Homo sapiens: one gene and its partners. The protein of the gene in region 2 interacts with the protein of the main gene of each other region in a pairwise test. Each region holds a gene or a part of one and is shown on either strand. Other genes may lie near its edges.

Region 1 (2,971 bases), on a different chromosome or scaffold from region 2:
GCTGGCACCCTTGACCAGGGTGCTTACGCCACCCCACGACGTAGACAGCCTCCCCCACCTGCGCAAGTTCTCGCCGAGCCAGGTGCCCGTGCAGACGCGCTCTTCCATCCTCCTGGCGGAGGAGACGCCCCCCGAGGAGCCAGCCGCCCGGCCGGGCCTCATCGAGATCCCGCTGGGCAGCCTGGCAGATCCCGCCGCCGAGGACGAGGGAGACGGGAGCCCCGCTGGTGCTGAGGATTCCTTGGAGGAGGAGGCGTCTTCGGAGGGGGAGCCCCGGGTGGGGCTGGGGTTCTTCTACAAGGTGAGTCCCCGAGCAGGTGGCTGGAGGGTCCTGGGCCTGGGGCGGGGGCGGGTGGGGGCGGGGGGAGGTGGACAAACCCACTATTGGATGAATAGGGCTTTACTGAAGGATGGGTGGGCGGGTGGGGGATAGATGGGGAGCCAGGTATGAATGGACAGAACAGGTGTGAGTGGCTGGGTAAGGCCTCCATGGGTGGGAGAGGGGGGAAAGGGACATTTGCACGGTGGGGGGCAGGTATGTGGGGTGACAGGGGCCTCAGATGGGATTTGACCCTGTCTGTTGGGTAAGGACTTCCACAAGGGGCTGTGGGGGTGCAGTGGGGTGAGAGGTCCTCCCCCTGTGGCTTAATGAGTGAGGCCCTCGGGTATGTTTGGGGGTGAGGGGTTTCCAGTGGGGGCTGACCCAGTCATGTCCCTCCCAAACAAGGTATGGGTGGCCGGACAAGGGGGATAGATAGATGTGGGGAGGGGTGGAGAAACAGGGAGGAGTCATGGATAGACAGATGGATGAATGGCTGGTTGCATGGGTGGGTGGGTGATGGACAGATAGACGGACAGGACCAGGATCTTCAGCGCACCTCCTTGCTCATCCTCTCCTTCACCCCCTCGCCCCCAGCACGCTCCTACCACCCCTTTCCTGGCCCTGCCCTGTGTCCACTGTCTCTCCATTCCCATGGCTTTCCCAGCCGGGGACACCTAGGGTTACCTGACTGGCCTCTGCTGCCTGCCTCCATCCCGGGCCATTTTGCACTGAGTGGTCGGGGATTTTGACTGCTCCCCTTACCCTTGCTTTTAGAATGAAAGTCCTCCCCAGGGTGGCCGGGCGCAGTGGCTCATGCCTGTAATCCCAGCACTTTGGGAGGCCAAGGCAGGCGGATCATGAGGTCAGGAGATCGAGACCATCCTGGCTAACATGGTGAAACTCCGTCTCTACTAAAAATACAAAAAATTAGCTGGCGTGGTGGCGGGCGCATGTAGTCCCAGCTACTCAGGAGGCTGAGGCAGGAGAATGGCGTGAACCCAGGAGGTGGAGCTTGCAGTGGGCCTAGATCGTGCCACTGCACTCCAGCCTGGGCAACAGAGCGAGACTCCATCTCAAAAAAAAAAAAAAAAAAAAAAAAGTGAGCACAGCCCAAAGCCCTGGGGAGGACTTCCTTTTCATTTTTTTTTTTTGTTTTGTTTTCTTTTGTTTTTTGTTTTTTGAGACAGAGTCTCGCTCTGTGGCCCAGGCTGGAGTGCAGTGGCATGATCTCGGTTCACTGCAACCTCCACCTCCTGGGTTTAAGTGATTCTCTTGTCTCACCCTCCTGAGTAGCTGGGACTACAAGAGCATGCCACCACGCCCAGCTGATTTTTGCATTTTTAGTAGAGACAGGGTTTCTCCAGGCTGGTCTCGAACCCCTGACCTCAAGTGATCCACCTGCCTTGGCCTCCCAAACTGCTGGGATTACAGGTGTGAGCCACCGCGTCTGGCCTGTACTCACTTCTGACTTAGTCCTGCGCCACTGTCCTCAGCTCTGTGTCCCAGCCACACTGGCCCCCTTGTACTTCCGTGCCCCCCAGTAGGTTTGCTCCAGCCTCAGGGCCTCGGCACTAGCTGTCCCCTCTGCCTGGAACGCTCTGCTCTGTACGCCCACCTAGTTAAATCCTGATCATTCTACAGGGTACTTCCTCTGGGAAGCCTTCCTGGGTGTCTCCAGGCCAGGCCGGGGTCCTCCCGCAGTGTAGAGTGTCTGTGCCCAACACGAGCTTTTGCTGGCACTCACTGCTGTCTGCTGCTTTTGTCTTCCCCGTTGGGTTAAGCAGTGTGTGTGTGAGCGGCACCCAGTGTATCCCATCCCTGTTGTGTCCCAGTACTTAGTGTGGGGCTGTGCATACAGTAGGCACCAACTAAGTGCATTTAGAACAATGATGAAAACAAAAGCACAGGTGGGTGGCGGGCAGGCTGGGTGGAGGGAAGATGGGCCTCCAGCCATGTTGGGGGAGGGGGTGGCTGGCTGGACTCGGCGTCTGTCCCCAGGATGAAGACAAGCCTGAGGACGAGATGGCCCAAAAGCGGGCCAGCCTGCTGGAGCGGCAGCAGCGGCGAGCAGAGGAGGCGCGGCGGCGCAAGCAGTGGCAGGAGGTGGAGAAGGAACAGCGGAGGGAGGAGGCCGCGAGGTGAGGCCGGGCCTGCCCGGGACGCCCGCTCCTTGGCCTGTCTGCCACCGCGGACCCCGTGAGCGGTTCTGATGCCGATTCCCTGTGATCTGCAGGCTGGCCCAAGAGGAGGCCCCGGGCCCAGCCCCGCTTGTGTCCGCAGTCCCGATGGCGACTCCAGCCCCTGCTGCCCGGGCTCCAGCCGAGGAGGAGGTGGGCCCCCGGAAGGGGGACTTCACGCGGCAGGAGTACGAGCGCCGGGCCCAGCTGAAGCTGATGGACGACCTCGATAAGGTGCTGCGGCCCCGGGCTGCGGGGTCCGGGGGTCCAGGTCGGGGCGGGCGGAGGGCCACCCGGCCTCGCTCGGGTTGCTGTGACGACTCAGCCCTGGCACGAAGCCCAGCCCGCGGCCTGCTGGGTGAGGACCCTTGGGGGACGGGGCCTGCCCAGTGCCCTTTCCGGGGCTCACTGGGTGAGGCCCCCATGGGTAAGGGGGGAGGGGGAGGGAGATGTAAGCAGGGGTGCCGGGAGG
Region 2 (3,500 bases):
CTACCATTGTAAAAGAATACCATTATCAGATTAGATTTTAAGCCTAAAATTATACATTACTATTTCTATTTACTTGATATGAAGTTTGAAATTCATGTTTGTTCGGGTGCCATTGGAGTACATATATAGAAAAGGCTCAACTTAATGTATAGCTTTCAGTTTGTCACAGGCACACTTAATAGAGCTAAGTACTAGAGCAAAGTTCTTCCTGTACTTGCAGTAAAAAACAAAAAACAAAAAAACCACAAAGATAGCAGTGATGGACCTTTAACCAAAGAATTCAGTTACAACTGTGCTCAAACTTACTGCAATTTTTATTAGCACTCAAGAGAGCCAATGCTTTACTTATCTTTTGTGCACAATGACTTACTTTACTTTTGTAAGCACTATGTCATTACGAAGCTATTTACAAGGTATTTAGAAAACAAAATTAATTCCTTAAAACCATCTATAAAATCCACTATCATACTAAAAATTAAAAAACAAAAACAAAAGTGAAGTCCACCCAAACTTTGAAGAGCTGGGCTTTTTTTTGTTCCTTTCCCTCTATTACCTGACAACATAGCAGTAATAGATAGGACCTCATTAGAACAGTTGTAGTCACAACTTGCAATAACCATTTTTGCGAGCTGTGGATCTAGAGGAAACTCTGCCATCATGGATCCCAATTCAGTCAGATCTCCATCATCATTTAAAGCAGCCAGGTAATTCAAAAGTTCCAGGGCTCTCATCAGAGTTTCAGGAGCTAGTGGTAAAAGACAATCTATTAGACACGGTGCCTTAAGCAAGCAAAAATGTGACAAAGTACAAACTATTATAAGCAATCTCATTTTTCATTTTGCAGTGGACCAAACTCAAACTCAAACTGTCATCCAATTCAATTATACAGATCTAGCAAACAATGAATCATAAAAACATTGCAAAATTTTCCTGTAGGCAAAACTGTCTTCTTCCGAAATACATTAAATAATTGCTAATTCATCAATGTGTTTATCAAACTGTTTTTCCCCAAAGAAAACTTAGGAATTCTCACATTTTCATGCCCAGAGGATAATTCAATTTACCCAAACCCCCCCATAATAACTTTTGAAGAAAAAAAAAAAATGTGCTCATATAACTGTCACCTTTTTTAGTTTTAATGCTATCATGTAAGACTTAATCTTGATGCATACTGGATGGAAAAAGCAAAATGTATTTAATACATATATTAAATAGGATGGAGAAAAACACTAAGAGTCAATTTTGGTTAAAAGATCTGATAAAAATGTGTTTTGATAAGTCATACCTGGTGGATCCATAAAATCAAAATGTACCAAGTCATCAATACCAAGTTTCTTCAATTGTAACACAACTGATCCTAAATTAGAACGCAAAATCTCAGGATAGGTGTTATCCTAGCAAAGAACAAAAACATTTATTGGTTATGTTAAAAATGCCTCAGTCTCCTCGTTCCAGAAAACAAAAATCTGCTGCCTCCTGAGCTATTTGTTTTGGCATTACTTCTACACTGTCTCAGTAGAGATAAATACTTGTAGGCTAGACTAGAGAGAAACCATTTTTCTCCAACTATCTTTATAGTATTCAGTGTTTGCTACTGTCCATAAAACTCGCAACTGCAGAAAGAAATTCGTATAGTAGTCTTCACTCATCTGAACTCGCAATTTCCATGGTTTCAGTTAAGCAGTGTCAACAGAAAAAATTTTAAAGATTCCAGAAAAAATTCATCAAGTTTAAATTGTGCACCATTCTTAGTAGTATGCTATATACACTATACACCCATTTGTCACTTAGCAACCATCTGTTATTAGATCAACTTTTGCAGTATCACAGTGCTTGTGCTCAAGTAACCTTTTACTTAATAATGGCCCCAAAGCGCCAAGAATATTGATGCTGGCAATTTGGATATGCCAATGAGAGGCCCTGAAGTGCTTCCTTTAAGTGAAACGCTGAAAGTTAGTAAGGAAAGAAAAAAAGTTGAAACCTAGTAACAAAAGAGCAAAAAAATCACATCTAAAGAAAGAATGCATCTTCTATCAGTGAAATTGTAAAGAAAGATATTTATACATAGTATATGTAAGTAAGGTTCAGCATATTCCAGTTTTTAGGCGTGGGAGGGGGAGGGTCTTGGAATGTATCAGCCTGGAATAAGGGGGTGTACGACTATCTAAGTTAATTACACCATACATTTCACTCCTGGAAAAGCTAAGGAGCTTTTAATCCTAAAAGGCAAGATTAAGTAAATAAGGCAATGTTCTTCTGGTAAGATAATTCAACCTAACATTTTAAACATATCGGCAGGAAACGACAATACCCCATACCTGCATTTCTGTTTTATAAGCTTTCTCTGTGTAAAGTCTGAAGCATTTTCCAGGTCTGGTACGTCCAGCTCGACCAGCCCTTTGCTGAGCTGAAGCTTTACTAATAGCTGTCACCAAAAGGGACTCAACTCTGATTCGAGGATTGTAGACCTATTGGAATTGAAATAACACAAGAGTCTTTCTTCAGTCAAACACAAAATTGTGATGCAACAGAAGTATCCAAAGCCCACAGTTAATTCCAAAATAAATAAAGAAATATCGATAGCCATAAATCATGCTGCTACAATAGACAACCCACCATCCTGAACCTTAAAGTTCTTTCAGACATTCTAATTCGATCATCTGAAAGACTCTAACATGAAAAACTTCTTGTCAAACACACAGCTTATATAATCCTTACTCCTCCTAATTTCAGTTCTATCAGGCTGACCTTGTTCCTTGCTTTTTATATGCTGGGCAGTCAAGGATTCTGCCCGAAAAGAAACCTTCACTTTCAAAACTCGACGGTCTGAGTACTATTACTCTGTTACTGTTTAATGAAAAAATTTCCATCAATAACAAAATGTAATCAATTTATCCAAAAGATATTTGAAAAATAAAACGTATTTATTGAATAGCCACTTCACCTGCATTTCACTTCATTTAGTATACAGCACTGTTAAACTAGAGGAGTAACATAGTACTGTTTTCAAATAGTGTGCCTAGTTGACAGCAGTAACTCTAATAATGTTGGGAGAAGTGACTGAACTGCAGGGATAGAAATCCTGTACTTTATTACTAAACCCATACTGTTAAATGAATATACAAGCCAAAACACCCACCGTCACTACACTGAAACAAAGAAAGCAAAGCAACTCTAAAAGAAAAAAAAGCCTAGAATTACATATTAAATACTGTCTTAATTTCTGAGAGCCAGCCAAAACATAAAGGGTTCATACAGCAGAAATTTGCAAATAAAAAAAAAGATAGGAAAATAATTCTGAAAGGTAAATTTTAGCCATTAAATGAATTGGTTGTAAGTACTGTTAAACCAACTCTAATTTATAAAGTATCCACTAAATATGTACCTTCTGTTTCGCAAATCCAGGATCAATCACAAACACCACACCATCTATTGTCAAAGACGTCTCTGCTATGTTAGTTGACACAACTACCTGTTAAGAAATAGAGTATATAAATTAT
Region 3 (3,500 bases), on a different chromosome or scaffold from region 2:
TAATCCCAGCTACTTGGGAGGCTGAGGCAGGAGAATCACTTGAACCCAGAAGGCGGAGGTTGCAGTGAGCTGAGATTGTGCCATTGCACTCCAGCCTGGGTGAAGAAGTGAGACTCTGTCTCCAAAAAAAGAAATGTTACCAGTTTTGATGGGCATTTAGGTGGTTGTTGAATTAGTTTAGCAGATACTAGATTGCAGCAGGCTAAAGAAGAATTGGAAATGGAAATGATACTTAGCAGAGAGGGGAATGTAGAACTTTATGGGCCAGGCACACTGGCTTAATTGGGGAGGTCGAGGTGGGCAAATTGCTTGAACAGGACTTCAAGACCAGCCTGGGCAACATGGCGAAACCCTGTCACTACAGAAAATATAAAAATTAGCCAGGCATGGTGGTGCATGCCTGTAGTCCTAGCTGTCTGGGAAGCTGAGGTGGAAGAATTTCTTGAGCCTGGGAGAGAGAGGTTGCAGTGAGCTGAGATCATGCCACTGCACTCCAGCCTGGGCGACAAAGAACTATATGGAGAAAGTAGCAGAAAATCAAAAAGGATTTTGTTTGTTTGTTTGTTTGTTGAGACAGAGTTTTGTGCTTGTTCCCAGGCTGGAGTGCAGTGGCACGATCTCAGCTCACTGCAGCCTCCACCTCCCGGGTTCAAGTGATTCTCGTGCCTCAGCCTCCCAAGTAGCTGGGATGACAGGTGTGCGCCACCACGCCCAGCTAATTTTTGTATTTTTAGTAGAGACAGGGTTTTACCATGTTGGCGAGGATGGTCTCGATCTCTTGACCTCGTAATCTGCCTGCCTCGGCCTCCCAAAGTACTGGGATTACAGGCATGAGCCACTGCGCCCAGCCTGATTTTTTTTGTTTTGTTTTGTCTTTGTTTCTGTTTTTTTTTTTAAAATAGAAGTGTGGAGTCTTGCTATGTTGCCTGGGCTAGACTTGTCCTCCTGGGCCCAAGTGATTTTTCTTTCTTTCTCTCTTTTTTTTTTTTTTTTTTTTTTTTTTTGAGACGTAGTCTTGCTCTGTCGCCCAGGCTGGAGTACGGTGGCACAATCTCAGCCCACTGCAAGCTCCGCCTTCTGGGTTCGCGCCATTTCCTGCCTCAGCCTCCCAAGTAGCTGGGACTACAGGTGCCCGCCACCATGCCCAGCTAATTTTTTGTATTTTTAGTAGAGGGGTTTCACCATGTTAGCCAGGATGGTCTCGATCTCCTGACCTCGTGATCCGCCCGCCTCGGCCTCACAAGTTGCTGGGATTACAGGCATGAGCCACCGTGCCCGGCCCCAAGTGATTTTTCTTGCTTCATCTTTCCATGTAGCTGGGAACATAAGCACACATCACTGCACTTAGCTAAGAATCAAAGGATTTATTTATTTATTTGAGACAGAGTCTCGTTCTGTTACCATGCTGGAGTGCGGTGGCGCAATCTCGGCTTGCAACCTCTGCCTCCTGGGTTCAAGCGATTCTCCTGCCTCAGCCTCCCAAGTAGCTGGAATTACAGGTGCCTGCCACCACACCTGGCTAATTTTTGTATTTTTAGTAGAGACGAGGTTTCAACATGTTGGCCAGGATGGTCTTGATCTCTTGATCTCGCGATCTGCTCGCGTCGGCCTCCCAAAGTGCTGGGATTACAGGCATGAGCCACCGCACCCGGCCACGATTTTATTTTATAGCAATAGTGGGTTTTTGTTTTTTGTTTTTTTTTTGTTTTTTAAAAGAAGATGGGGCCTTAACATTTTTGTAAGGTTAGGTGAAAAGGGTGAATGTAGAGGGGCTTGACTGAGAAGAGTGGAAGATGTAGTGACTTAAGTGAACCAAAGGAAGAATACCCTTTCCTCAGAAGCAAGGAGGAAGGACCTGAGAATAGTTAGGGATATATGTATACCTTCTTGGAAGAGGGAAGGACTTTAGCCATTTTGTTTCAGTATTTTTACCTAAATGTATTTCTCTCAAAGGTCGAGGTCAAGGAGACATTCTCATAGACGTTACACTCGATCCAGATCCCACTCTCACTCTCATAGGAGACGATCTCGAAGTAGATCATATACACCAGAATACCGGCGGCGAAGGAGCCGAAGCCATTCTCCAATGTCTAACCGGAGAAGACATACTGGCAGCAGGGTACGTGGTTTATAAAAGTTAATGAAGACTTATTTTCTCTTTTATGTGTTTAGTCATGGCATATCTTGCTTTTAGGGGAGCTTGGCCATTGTTTAGAAGTGATACTCTGGAAACATCCTTAATAAGCTGCTTTAGCTTTCAAAGTAAAGGAAATGCCACCATCTTTCGTAAGCTTACCATGTTTTATGACAAAGAATGCAAAGGAAGTATATTTTCTTTTTTTTAGACAAAGTCTTACTCTGTCTCCCAGGCTGGAGTGCAGGGGTGCAATTTCGACTCACTGCGGCCTTAGCCTCCTGAATAGCTGGGGTTGCAGGTGTGCACCACCACACCCAGCTAATTTTTGTGTTTTTAGAAATGGGGTTTCACCATGTTGACCCCTCTGGTCTCAAACTCCTGACCTCAGGTGATCCACCTGCCTTGGCCTCCCAAAGTGCTGGGGTTACAGGCGTGAGCTACCATGCCTGGCCGGGAGTATATTTTTCTTTTCATGACGTTTGAGTAAAAAGGACATGAAGGCTGGGCGTGGTGGCTCACACCTGTAATCCCAGCACTTTGGGAGGCCAAAGGGTGTGGGTCACCTAAGGTCAGGAGTTCGAGACCAGCCTGGCCAACATGGTGAAACCCCATCTCTGCTAAAAATACAAAAATTAGCCAGGCGTGGTGGCTTACGCCTGTAATCTCAACTACTTGAGAGGCTGAGGCTGGAGAATCCCTTGAACCCAGGAGGTGGAGGTTGCAGTGAGCCGAGATTGTGCCACTGCATTCCAGACTGGCCTGGGAGACAGAGCGAGACTCTGTCTCAAAAAAAGAAAAGGAGATGAAATTTGGGAAGAAATATGTTCCGGCCGGGCGTGGTGGCTCACACTTGTAATCCCAGCACTTTGGGAGGCCGAGGTGGGCGGATCACGAGGTCAGGAGATCGAGACCACGGTGAAACCCTGTCTCTACTAAAAATACAAAAAATTAGCTGGGCACGGTTGCAGACGCCTGTAGTCCCAGCTACTCCGGAGGCTGAGGCAGGAGAATGGTGTGAACCCGGGAGGCAGAGCTTGCAGTGAGCCGAGATGGCGCCACTGCACTCCAGCCTGGGCGACAGAGCGAGACTCCGTCTCAAAAAAAAAAAAAAAAAAAAAAAAGAAATATGTTCCACGAATTCAAGTGAAAAGCATAAATTGAGTTGGGAATACTGGGTTATATTCAAAGTTTTTTGATGGGGTAAGGGGGTCAAAGAAATATTAAAAACTTTGTAGTAATCATAGCTAACACTTTTATTCAGTACACTTAAAGCTTTTAACATTTCTGTGAGGCAAGTTATGTTATATATAAAAAAAATTGAGTCTTGGATGTATGACATTGAAGGAGTTTTAGTTTTGGTTTT
Region 4 (3,500 bases), on a different chromosome or scaffold from region 2:
AATTGTCTGTTACTTCAGGTGGGAAACCCTCTCAGTCTGACTCTGCATAGTTATAATACCTTTTCCCCTGATTAAGGAGGCAAAAACGATTTATACAAAAACTCATTGCAATTATATTTATTTTGGAAGGATTTTTAAAAACAAATGGAGTCACAAGCAGCTAAAATTTGAGAGAATGAGCCTTAGTCTTTGTTTTGTTTTGTTTTTTAGTTTATGAGGAATAACAAAAATTAAAACAGAAGAAACCATAGGCATAAAACAAAAGAAGAAACAAATTTTAGTGTCCTTCAAAGAATAGATACAAAATGCACTCCTTTTCCAAAAAGGAACTAAAAGGAAAACAGAGAGGGAACAAACCTTGTATCTCATTGAGTATAGTTTTTTTTTTTTTTTTTTTGGTTTTTTATTTTGAGATAAGAGTCTCACTCTATCACCCAGGCTGTCATGTGCAGTGGCGTGACCTTGGCTCACTGCAACCTCCACCTCCAGGGTTCAAGAGATTCTCCAGCCTCAGCCTTCTGAATAGCTGGGACTACAGGCACATGCCACCGTGTCCAGCTAATTTTTGTATTTTTTTTAGTAGAGACAGGGTTTTACCATGTTGGCCAGGCTGATCTTGAACTCCTGACCTCAGGTGATCCACCTGCCTCGGCCTCCCAAAGTGTTGGGATTACAGGCGTGAGCCACCACGCCCAGCCCCAAGTATATTTTTTGTTAAATGAAACTTTTTGACTAGGTGCAGTGGCTCATGCCTGTGATCCCAACGCTTTGGGAGGCTGAGGCAAGAGGATTGCTCGAGGCCAGGAGTTCAAGATCAGCCTGGACAACAAAGCAAGACCTCTTTTTTTTTTTTGAGACGGAGTCTCGCTCTGTCTCCCAGGTTAGAGTGCAGTGGTGCGATCTTGGCTCACTGAAACTTCCACCTCCTGGGTTTAAGCGATTCTCCTGCCTCAGCCTCCCTAGTAGCCAGGATTACAGGCATGCGCCACCACGCCTGGCTAATTTTTGTATTTTTACTAGAGACGGGGTTTCACCATGTTGGCCAGGCTGGTCTTGACCTCCTGATCTCAAGCAATCCGCCCGCCTCAGCCTCCCAAAGTGCTGGGATTACAGGCATGTGCCACCGCACCTGGCGGCAAGACCTCATCTCTACAAAAAAATAAAAAACTTTTATTTCGGGCCCGGTGCAGTGGCTCACGCCTGTAATCCCAGCAACTGAGGTGGATCTCCTGAGGTCAGGAGTTTGAGACCAGCCTGGCCAACACGATGAAACCCCATCTCTACTAAGAATACAAAAATTAGCCAGGCGTGATGGCGCATGCCTGTAATCCCGGCTACTAAGGAGGCTGAGGCAGGAGAATTACTTGAACCCAGGAGGCGGAGGTTGCAGTGAGCCAAGATCGTGCTACTGCACTCCAGCCTGGGCGACAGAGCGAGACTCCATCTAAAAAAATAAATAATAAAATAAAATAAAAACTTTTCTTTCATTTTCAGAACTTCAGTTGTTTTCTACGTCTAATGCATCATTTTTATTTTCTTCATTAATTCCTCGATTTCTGAAAACTGAAGGTTTGACCATATCAAAAGAGACTTCTCTTCACCTTTCATAAATCTGTAAACAAATGAAGTTACTTACAAATGTGAAGCTGTTTCTGTCACATATTACAGATGATGAAATGAGCAGTTAAGAGCTGTGTCATGCATTCAGCAGAATGGATGCACTTGACAGTCTCCCAGGCCATCATTTCTATAGTCTGTACCATTTGATAGTATCATCAGAACATCAGACCTTAAGTGATGAGTTTACATTTAAACCAAGTTTTTATCCATGTTTAAAATATAAAGGGAAAAAAGGCTTAACTAGACTCCTATTGAATTTGATTATATATTTAGGAAACAACTCAGCCATTGAGTTATAATTTACATGTCTTTATCTGCTAGGAGATTAAGTGAGAGAGAGAGAATTGGAGAATTGGGAGCTCCTGAAGTATGGGGACTTTCTCCAAAGAATCCTGAACCAGAGTAAGTGGTTAAAAAATATATTTTTAAAATGTTATAATATGTGTTTAAATCCTGAATCTATTGTGAAAATGTTTAAGTGAAGAACTTTAAATATATCTCACATTTTTCTTTCTTGTGATTTATGTTCTTCTACCCCTTAAGTTTTAAAAACATAGAACATATCTAAAGATTAAAACATGTTGCTAGTAGGTTTTAGCATAATCTAAAATAATTCCTGGAATATAATTTTCCTATTAATAGAAGGGTTCATTGTTAAATAATACACATTATTTTGAATTATTTTTTCTCAACTAAACTCAGTGGCAGATTGCATGCCAGATATTAACATTACAAAGAGATTTTTTTTTTTGAGATGGAGTCTTGCTCTGTCGCCCAGGCTGGAGTGCAATGGTGCGGTCTCAGCTCACTGCAACCTCCGCCTCCTGGGTTCAAGCGATTCTCCTGCCTCAGCCTCCCGAGTAGCTGGGATTACAGGTGCCTGCCACCATGCCCGGCTAATTTTTGTATTTTTAGTAGAGACGGCGGTTTCACCATGTTGGCCAGGCTGGTCTCGAGCTCCTGACCTCGTGATCCGCTTGCCTCAGCCTCCCAAAGTGCTGGGATTACAGGCGTGAGCCACTGCGCCCAGCCTACAAAGAGATTTTTTAAAACGAATATACCAGTATGGTTTTGTTAATATTCCTATATCCAATACTATCTGCAGACTTAATGCTTTTTCTTTTTGCTTATTTCTTTTCTCTTTGATGCTACTCATAAGTTTCTTCTTCCCTCTCTGTTTCTGTGCCAACTTTAGGTTGAGTTGAGACAATGTGCTTGACAGGTAAACCTGTAATTTGTGATTGGATAATAAAGCATTATTATCTGAAACTTGTTCTTACAGATACCTTTAGAAAATGCTTGAAGAGGCCAGGTGCGGTGGCTCACGCCTGTAATCACAGCACTTTGGGAGGCCAAGGCAGGTGGATTCCTTGAGCCCGGGAGTTCAAGACCAGCCTGGGCAAATAACAAGACTATTTAAAAGAAAAAAAAAAGAAAACACTTGAAGAACCTGAATGTATTGAATTAGAGTTGGAAGGAACCCTAAAAATAGTTTTCTTTCTTCTTTTTTTTTTTTTTTTTTTTGAGACAGAGTCTTACTCTGTCACTCAAGCTGGAGTGCAGTGGTGCGATCTTGGCTCACCATAACCTCCGCCTCCCAGGTTCAAGTGATTCTCCTGCCTCAGCCTCCCGAGTAGCTGGGATTACAGGTGCATGCCACCATGCCTGGCTAATTTTTGTATTTTTAGTAGAGATGGGGTTTCACCATGTTGGTCAGGCTGGTCTTGAACTCCTGACCTCATGATCCGCCCACCTCGGCCTCCCAAAGTGCTGGGATTACAGGCGTGAGCCACTGCACCCAGCCAAAATAATTTTCTAGATAATATTTAAATTACTCCAAGTATGATCTTCAGAGGAAAAGATTATATGATGTGGAAACT

The links.
Region 1: the proteins of DHX15 (region 2) and CAMSAP3 interact in binary tests that used the Homo sapiens proteins (3 or more experiments, as listed by UniProt).
Region 3: the proteins of DHX15 (region 2) and TRA2A interact in a two-hybrid assay, tested with the Homo sapiens proteins (one large-scale study listed by BioGRID and IntAct).
Region 4: the proteins of DHX15 (region 2) and NKAP interact in a two-hybrid assay, tested with the Homo sapiens proteins (one large-scale study listed by BioGRID and IntAct).

What each region holds. Positions count from the first base shown.
Region 1 is NC_000019.10:7,612,863-7,615,833, forward strand, and holds part of CAMSAP3 (calmodulin-regulated spectrin-associated protein 3), read left to right. Parts: coding exon 1-301; intron 302-2,320; coding exon 2,321-2,460; intron 2,461-2,555; coding exon 2,556-2,857; intron 2,858-2,971. UniProt on the Homo sapiens protein: Key microtubule-organizing protein that specifically binds the minus-end of non-centrosomal microtubules and regulates their dynamics and organization.
Region 2 is NC_000004.12:24,539,555-24,543,054, forward strand, and holds part of DHX15 (ATP-dependent RNA helicase DHX15), read right to left. Parts: intron 3,473-3,500; coding exon 3,386-3,472; intron 2,469-3,385; coding exon 2,319-2,468; intron 1,395-2,318; coding exon 1,286-1,394; intron 746-1,285; coding exon 554-745; intron 1-553.
Region 3 is NC_000007.14:23,514,982-23,518,481, reverse strand, and holds part of TRA2A (transformer-2 protein homolog alpha), read left to right. Parts: intron 1-1,953; coding exon 1,954-2,119; intron 2,120-3,500. UniProt on the Homo sapiens protein: Sequence-specific RNA-binding protein which participates in the control of pre-mRNA splicing.
Region 4 is NC_000023.11:119,937,252-119,940,751, reverse strand, and holds part of NKAP (NF-kappa-B-activating protein), read left to right. Parts: intron 1-1,941; coding exon 1,942-2,022; intron 2,023-3,500. UniProt on the Homo sapiens protein: Acts as a transcriptional repressor. Plays a role as a transcriptional corepressor of the Notch-mediated signaling required for T-cell development. Also involved in the TNF and IL-1 induced NF-kappa-B activation.